2 linked regions of the Homo sapiens genome follow. The protein of the gene in region 2 purifies or fractionates together with the protein of the main gene of each other region. This does not show direct contact. Each region holds a gene or a part of one and is shown on either strand. Other genes may lie near its edges.

Evidence for each region. Proteins that work in one complex are often made in the same cells at the same time.
Region 1: the proteins of KCNS3 (region 2) and GOLIM4 purify together in Homo sapiens (affinity purification with mass spectrometry; 2 studies listed by BioGRID and IntAct, with this or other methods). This does not show direct contact.

The regions. Positions count from the first base shown.
Region 1 is NC_000003.12:168,026,315-168,030,060, forward strand, and holds part of GOLIM4 (Golgi integral membrane protein 4), read right to left. Parts: intron 3,723-3,746; coding exon 3,466-3,722; intron 2,989-3,465; coding exon 2,909-2,988; coding exon of another isoform or gene 2,906-2,908; intron 1,524-2,905; coding exon 1,414-1,523; intron 1-1,413. UniProt on the Homo sapiens protein: Plays a role in endosome to Golgi protein trafficking; mediates protein transport along the late endosome-bypass pathway from the early endosome to the Golgi.
Region 2 is NC_000002.12:17,876,990-17,880,735, reverse strand, and holds the start of KCNS3 (delayed-rectifier potassium channel regulatory subunit KCNS3), read right to left. Parts: upstream 2,070-3,746; 5' UTR 1,930-2,069; intron 1-1,929. UniProt on the Homo sapiens protein: Potassium channel regulatory subunit that modulates the delayed rectifier potassium channel activity of KCNB1 by namely slowing down the deactivation and inactivation time constants.

The sequences.
Region 1 (3,746 bases), on a different chromosome or scaffold from region 2:
GTAACATATTCTTTTCAGAAAAAAGTACCAAATATCTTTTGCAAACGTTCATAAAATTGACTAGCTCAACTCCGACCACGTAACAGGTATGAATTAGCAGGCACAGTTGTTACGTTCAAATAAAACAGAAAGAGAGGAACAAGTGGGATTAACCATTTCTAATTAAAAGGAAGAATGGTACAAAGGCCAATGTTTCCCAGCATGTTCCCCAAAACAAACAAACAGATGACAGGAAAGTAAAGGATCATATAGTCAAGAAATCAAAGCCTACAGCAGTTCCCAAACAAGTGACTGAAATGCCCTTCCTCCCACCCCATGCACATTTGCAGGCCTTTGTACACTTGCTTTCTTGCTCTCTCCTGGATAGTCTCTTGCTCTCTCATATGTTTCTGCTCTCAAGTATTAGCCTTTTCCTGAAAATATTTCAGGACTAGGTTCCCTGGAGCATATTTTCAGAAATCTTGATGCAAGGAATGCCAGGGAAAGGTGTTCTGCCACATCTCAGTGCAAGTTAAGTGGAAAAGCTGTTTCCAGCAAAAGGGCTTTAAGTAGCTAGCAGGATGACTTTCTTGATGATTAGCAAGGACATGGGTCCTCCTTTTAATCAGGGCTCATGTGACATAGCACAGACCGACTGTTATAAACATGGTAGTTGATCTATTAGCAAGAGATGACAGGGCAGCTAAAATAAGCTGTAAAAATCATCTACGCATACACGCAGGAACAGACTCACTAAACATTTGCTTGCTTCACTTGTAGGCAGGGCCAAGGATCTAGCCCACCCAGCTGAACTAGAGGTCTCAGTCTTTTTTGGTAAACACAAACAACAATGCTGGTTATTAGATGTCTACCTACTTATATTATAAATTTTCTGTACCATTGCATACCTGAACAACTCTTCATGTCTCAGACCACATATCCTTATCCATATATTTATTAAAATGGTCACTAGACTGCTAAGAGATTACAGAGAGTCACACAAATACCTAACACTCTAGCAGACTGCTCAACATGCTCAGGAAGGGTTAGTTTCCTTTCTCTGGTCCCATCTCCAACTTCCACACTTGCCTTTTATTCCTCCTAGCTTTCAGAGTTACTACATATTTCAGTGTCTCTCAGTTTTGCTTTTCTAGGTTTTAGTTTTATTAATCTAAAAGTCATCAGAAAAAAAAAATCCTGGTTTTGTTTTTTTTTTTCCCCCAGAGCAACTTTTAAACCAGCTCATCACATACACGTACACCATGGTTTACAGTTAAAAACACTGCCCATATATAATTATGCAAGCCATTTTCCTTCTGGGCTGAGGATATAACAGAAATATCTGGGGCTGAAGGCTGGCATCAGGCAAGTTTTCAACTCTCTTTCCCACCTTATGAGTTTACATGTGTCAGGGGCAGAAGAGAGGATACTTACATCTGCCTCAGATTCTGGGTCGGCTTCTCGGGGTCCTTGTTCACGAGGCTCATGTCTATTACCTGGATCTCCTTCTGCTTCATCTTGGTGCTGGTTGTCTCTTTCATAGGCTAGCAAATCAAAGGAACTAAAATCAGCCCAAAATGAATCAAACAGGATTTCCCTTTCAACTCAAAGAAAAGCCACCAGTGGACTTTTCTACAGACTACAATACCTCCACCTCTGTTAACTCAACATAAGGCCTATGTCCTGGCTTTTCTGAATAAGGTTATGTTCTCTTCACAGACTGTGTGTCTAGAGAGATGATATGGGTCAGACACTTTTCTTCTAAAATAAATATTTTTCACAGGAGCTGTAATTTTTCCCCCATATGCAAGAAAACAACAACAATCAAAACTCTCTCAATAAAAGAAAGCCCAGTTGATTGGACACTGCTGAAGAAATCAACTAATGTTTGATAATATCAGAGGAAGTAGCTGGGCTCCAAAAGAAGAAATTGATAGTTTCAGGAAATGCAAGGAAGAACTGCCCCATCTGTGGAGCTCAGAAACAAATATAGCCCATCACATGTTTTCTGATGTCATCACAGTAATGATGATGACCGCCACAGCCCAGAAACAGCACACATTCATACTCAGACATTTACTTGCTGCTTTTTGAAAAAATATTTAGATAAAGAGAATTGTATGAGCACAAAAAGAGAAGAACAAATCACTTTTTAAAACAAGTAAGATAGAAGAGGAAAGTTTAAGTATATGGAGTGTACTAAGCCTAGAGAAAATGATGATACGGGGTAACTTACCATCAGCCTTCAAGTGCACAAAGGGGTTTACTACATAGAGAAGAGGACAAGCCATTCTCTAGTCTTACTGATATGAGAACAAAAAAGCTTAAAGTGCCACATGGCGGACATAAGGAAAACAATTTCTTGACTGTAAGAGCTGTAAGATATCACAACGGGCTATTGAGGGAGGTTGTATGTAATCACTTTCTTTCTGACTTTTTAGAAAAAGATACACATCTAAGTGTTAGTGGTGCCAGAGAGACAGTAAGTTACATTCTGGTTCTATTATAACAGTAAGCAATATTTGATAAATTACATATTAAGTGCTTATCATAAATGAAAGCTACTATTGACTTAATTTGAAAACATTTTAAGGCAATGATGTGAGGACTTCCAAGGTAAGGAGAAAATGCAGATGTTTCCCAAAGCATAATAATCCTATAATAATTTGTCAGAAATATTATAAATATTTAGTATATAAAAAGCTTAAACTACAGGGAAAATGATAGAGAGGAAACAGATTATCTTGAGCATTTTTCACTACCAGCATGTACTGTTTAAGAGGATTAAGAAAAAGACATGATTCACAAACCTCCTTTGCACTTAGGTATGCATACAGCTCATTGATGTTATATAATATTGGCTCACTGATAATATACAATGTTATCAAGTAATTTATTAAAACATTCATCATCTAGGAAGTCTCACCACCTCCTTCCTCTCCTTGGATTCCCTGGTCCTCTGCTCCCTGAACGATATCATTATCCATAGCATCATAATGAGCTTGCTGCCTACAAGAGACACAAACATGATAAATCCAGTGGGACAAAATTCAGAGGCACAGTTTGACATAGGTCATTTATCTTTAAAGACAGTAATAAGTAATGTTTCTCAACATTTTTAAGAAGCCATGAAAAATTTTTAAAAACCTCTTATGTATGCAATTAGGTATAATAAAAATTCCAGATACACTTTCAAAAGGTATCTTAAAAAGATAAAATATCTTTTAAAGATAAAATAAAATAAAGTTGGCACAAAGCCTGCAAGGCTATTTGGAGACCTAACCTACCACTTTTGAGCAGAAAAAAAATATTATTTTTAAAATTAAATATTTGGTATTTAATTTTCAAGTAGCTGTCCTGCCTTGGCTATTTGAGCAATATGAGCCCCTTAACTTCATGAATCACAAATGCACAAAACTGTTTTTAATTTGCGTATGAAAACTGGAGCAGGGGCTGTCTTCGTTCATTAAGGAAGGGGAAGGCTACCGGAGCTGCTCCTGGTGCTGCGGCCGGCCCTCCTCAAGCTCAGCCTGCCTCTGCAGGGCCATCTCTCTTGCCACCTGCTGCTGCTGCTGTTCCTGCTGCCGTAGTAAGTGCCCCTGCAGCCTCTGCTGGTGCAAAGCTTCCTGGTGTTCCCGCAGCTGCTGGGCCTCCTCCACCTGCTGCACTGCCAGTCTCTGCTGTTCCAACTGTTCCTCATAGGGTGATTGGAATTTGATCATTGGCTTGGCTGAAGGGTACACCTAGGGTGAAAAAGAGTTGGTGCA
Region 2 (3,746 bases):
TTGGATTTTTAATATTATAATATTTCAGAACAGAACAAAGACTGCTTCTGACCTCCCAATTTGCCCTCATACACTTGACCAGCAAAACCTTAGCGTAGCTGCATTCATCAATGGCTCTATTCAGGCAATTATGGGTCAGACAAAAGATTCAATTAATACTGATCCCGCAAGTCTCCTTAGTATATTCACAACATGCTTTGGATTCAGAGTTCTATGGCACCTTCATATGACCTTCTCCGGATCCCAATATTGACAATTCCTAGTTCAGAAACGACAAACATAATATTAGAACAAGAGAAGAAGGGAAGCTGGTGAGAAAGAAAGAACAGACTAGACTGGGTGCAGAAATTATATCATCCATTTGCTGTCTGTCCCCGAGTGCATCCTGGGGCCTGGCCCATGGCGGGCTGGTTGGAAATGCATACTGAACGAGTCAATCTCCTCAAGAAGGTCACCACCCAGGTAAGAAGTGGAGCCTGCACATTACACCAAGTTCAGCTAGAGAATCAAAGCCACCTCTTCGGCTCCAGATATGCAGGGAAGACAAAGCACGAGGGCATATGCCTTCAGCTAAGAGATAGGTGCGTGCTTCCTGTTTACCTGGGCAGGTATTTGCAAATAGTCTAAGAAGGGGGGCAACTAGGAGTGACTTACACAGTTCCAAGTGAATGGTTACGCAAATCGCTTGAGTAAATACAGGGAAAGAAACAGGAAAGGCTTCTGAACTGTTTGTACTCATCTGCTCCAGTATTTTCAGAGGGTAGGGTGAAAGACAAAAAACCCGAACGAAGGCTCCGGGCCAACCACAAAGCTACTCTCCGGCAGGAACGTAAGGAACACCTACCGCCCCTCCCCCCACTTCACGCCTTGGCACCAAACCAGGGCCCCTGGGTCATTTTGGCAGGTGGAGGTAGCTCTTTGCTGTCCTCTGCCCCTGCTGCGGGCCACCCGAGTGAAGCTTTCGGCTCGGTCTCCCCAGACAAAACCGGGGGGAGACATCAAGAATGCAAAAGGTGCTCCTTTCTCCAAATGAACGAGAAGGGACAGAGCGGGGTTGGGGGTGCAGGACAAGCCCTGCAATGCGAAAGGCGCCCAGCCAGGCTCGCCGCGGCCCCTGCCGGCAAGACTGGCTCGCTTGCTAGCCAAGGTGCCTCAGGAGGTCGGGCAGCCACCCAGAAAGGCGCGAAAAAAAAAAGAGGAGTTCCTGACCCCGGGGTGACCCTTCCCCACCACTGCCACTGATCCAAACGCAGAGTCCGCAAGTGACTCCACACCTGCGCTGCAAGCCTCACGCCGTCCCCACCCAGGGCGCAGCGCTGCACGAGAGCAAGGGCCCTGGGTTCGCTCTTCCCTGCAACTGTCGCGGGGCGCCTAGCACAGCTGCAGGGCAAAGGGGAGGGGAGGAATGACAAAGAAGGCGGAGCAGACGGCCCGGGAAGCATTTACAAGCGCCAGGAAAGCGCCTCCTCTCGAGGAAGGGAAGGAACGGCTTCCCGGCCAAGGAAACGCCCCGGGGATGCCCCTACGCGAGGTGCCGCCTTTCTTCGGCTCATCGATTCTCCCGCCTCCAGGTGGTCCTCCCCCTGACCATAGCCCACCCCACTCCCCGAAAGCTGATCCTAAATACCTTCCCCGAGGCTTTCAAATCAACCCAGCCACCGCTTCAACAGCCCGCAGTTCACGCAACAGGCGGAGCCTTAGGGCTCCAGCGACGGCGGGCTCTGGGGACCAGAGGATGCGGGCGCCGCGGGCCAGACGCCCAGAAGGACGGAAAGTGCTCTGCGGCCGTAGACCCTCGGGGTCGTGCACCCGCGACCTGGACCACAGGAGACTGGGGCAGCAAAAGGTGGGGGAAGGCGCGGTAAAGTTGCAGGGTCGCCCGGAGAAGTCTCCGGAGCGCGCAGGGAGGTGGGGACGCCAGCCAGGTACCTGCAGGAGTCCGGACGCATCCAGCTAGCTCCGCTCTGCGACGCCGCCTGCCCGCGCTGCAGGGATCAGGCCTCGCGGCGCGGCCCCGCGCCTGCCGCCGCGGCGGCGAGGAGAGCGGGGTGGCCCGCGTCGGCCGGTCTGTCCGTCGGTCCCGCCCCGCTAGAGCGAGGCTCCCGGGAGCTGCGGGCGGGGCGGGGCCGGACGGGACGGGGCGGGGCCCGCCGCTCGGCCGCCGCCCCATTGGTCGCAGCTCCGCCAGCCCCTCGCTTCGGGCCCGCAGCCGGGCGCCCCGGGCCGAGGGCGCGGGCGGCTGAGGACTGCGGGGCTCCGACCGCCAGACAGGCGGACAGACCCATAGACCTAGATGCTGCCCTGCCGGCCGCGCGCCCCCGCCCAGGCCCAAGTGCAGAGTCACCCCGGAGCGGCAGGCGCTGTCCGGGTGGGACCAGGAGCGCGCCCCGCGCCTCCCACCTGCGCGCCCTCCTGGGCCGGAAGCGCCGTGGCCCTGCGGGAAAAAGATGACCTCCCCCGCGGCCCCGGCGGCTGGGGCAACCGCCTTTCTAAAGTCGCGGCCCAAGCGACACTTTGCTAATTTGCCTGGATTTCCTCAGGAAATCGCGAGGCCCAAACTTGTTTTAAAACAAAGTGCGAAGGAGAGTACATATAGCTCCAGTTCCTGCCAATGTTTGCCATCGGTCCCGCTGCCTGAAGACTCAGGCACAGTGCAGAACAAGATGCTTTGTCTTATTCCTCCACTCACCGAGTCAGAAGAGGTGCTTGGACATTTGCACCAAGCAGATGCGCCTCATATGTAGAAGAGGAACCAGTCGGGTCCCCTTTCGGAAGGACGAATGGAAGAGGAAGTCAGGGGACGATGCCTTCAGCCGACGTTGAGGAACAAACCAGGACCTCGGCGAGGACAGCGTGTGGTCCAGAAGGCATCGCTGGCCTCGCTGCACTGAGCGAGAGCGCTCAGTTAACAGCCAGGAGGAGAAATGGGACGCTTCGGGACCCACCCCCGCGCTCCCCCTCCCGCCCCCAAACTGCAGATTTTTAAGTTGTGCAGACGTGGAACAATTCCTCGGAGCCAGCTGCTCCAAGCTAAGGCGCCCAGTGTTCCCTGGGTTCCTACCCGCAGCATACGCCCTGCCAGCTGCCCCCAAGCCAGCACCCGCTGACCACTCACCTCAGGCAAGCACCTAGGAAGACGATGCAGATTCAAGCTCCAGACCTTGAGCCAAGCGCTGGGGAGGGAATGGGGGCAAAGAGATGGTGGAAAACACTTTCCTGAACTTACTGAATACCCTATGTTATGTGTGGGTTTTCTAATTGTTCTTTGCTTAATGAAAAACCCACGTTGGAAATCAGAAAAAGGCAGTAATCCTCACCGTATCTTGTGGGCTTCAAAGAGGAGGTTTTCCCCTTAAAGGGAGTTTTGGTCCAGAGGAGAGGCTAACAGCAGGCAGGAAGGGCAGAGGAAAAGATAAAGCCTAGGGTGGTCTTCCCCCTGAGGCCTGGAGCCCACCAAGCTCCAACAGTTTCATTTGGCTTCTGGGAAGCAAAGTACAGATGCATGTGTCTGCAGAGCACTGTTCTGAGCCATTTGTCCCTAATTCCATGGTTCTTTGGTTCCTCCAATCTTGTCTCCTCTCCTGTGGAAGAGGATCCAAAGCATTGGTCCACACTGCTATTTACAAGTGGCTGAAGAAGGTAACTTTCTTACATAGTTCATCTTTAGCATAAGCTCTAAGATTGTTCTAAAAATATATTTACATTTTATCAACACCTTAGAAGAATGCTTCCAGATCTCTCCCAGC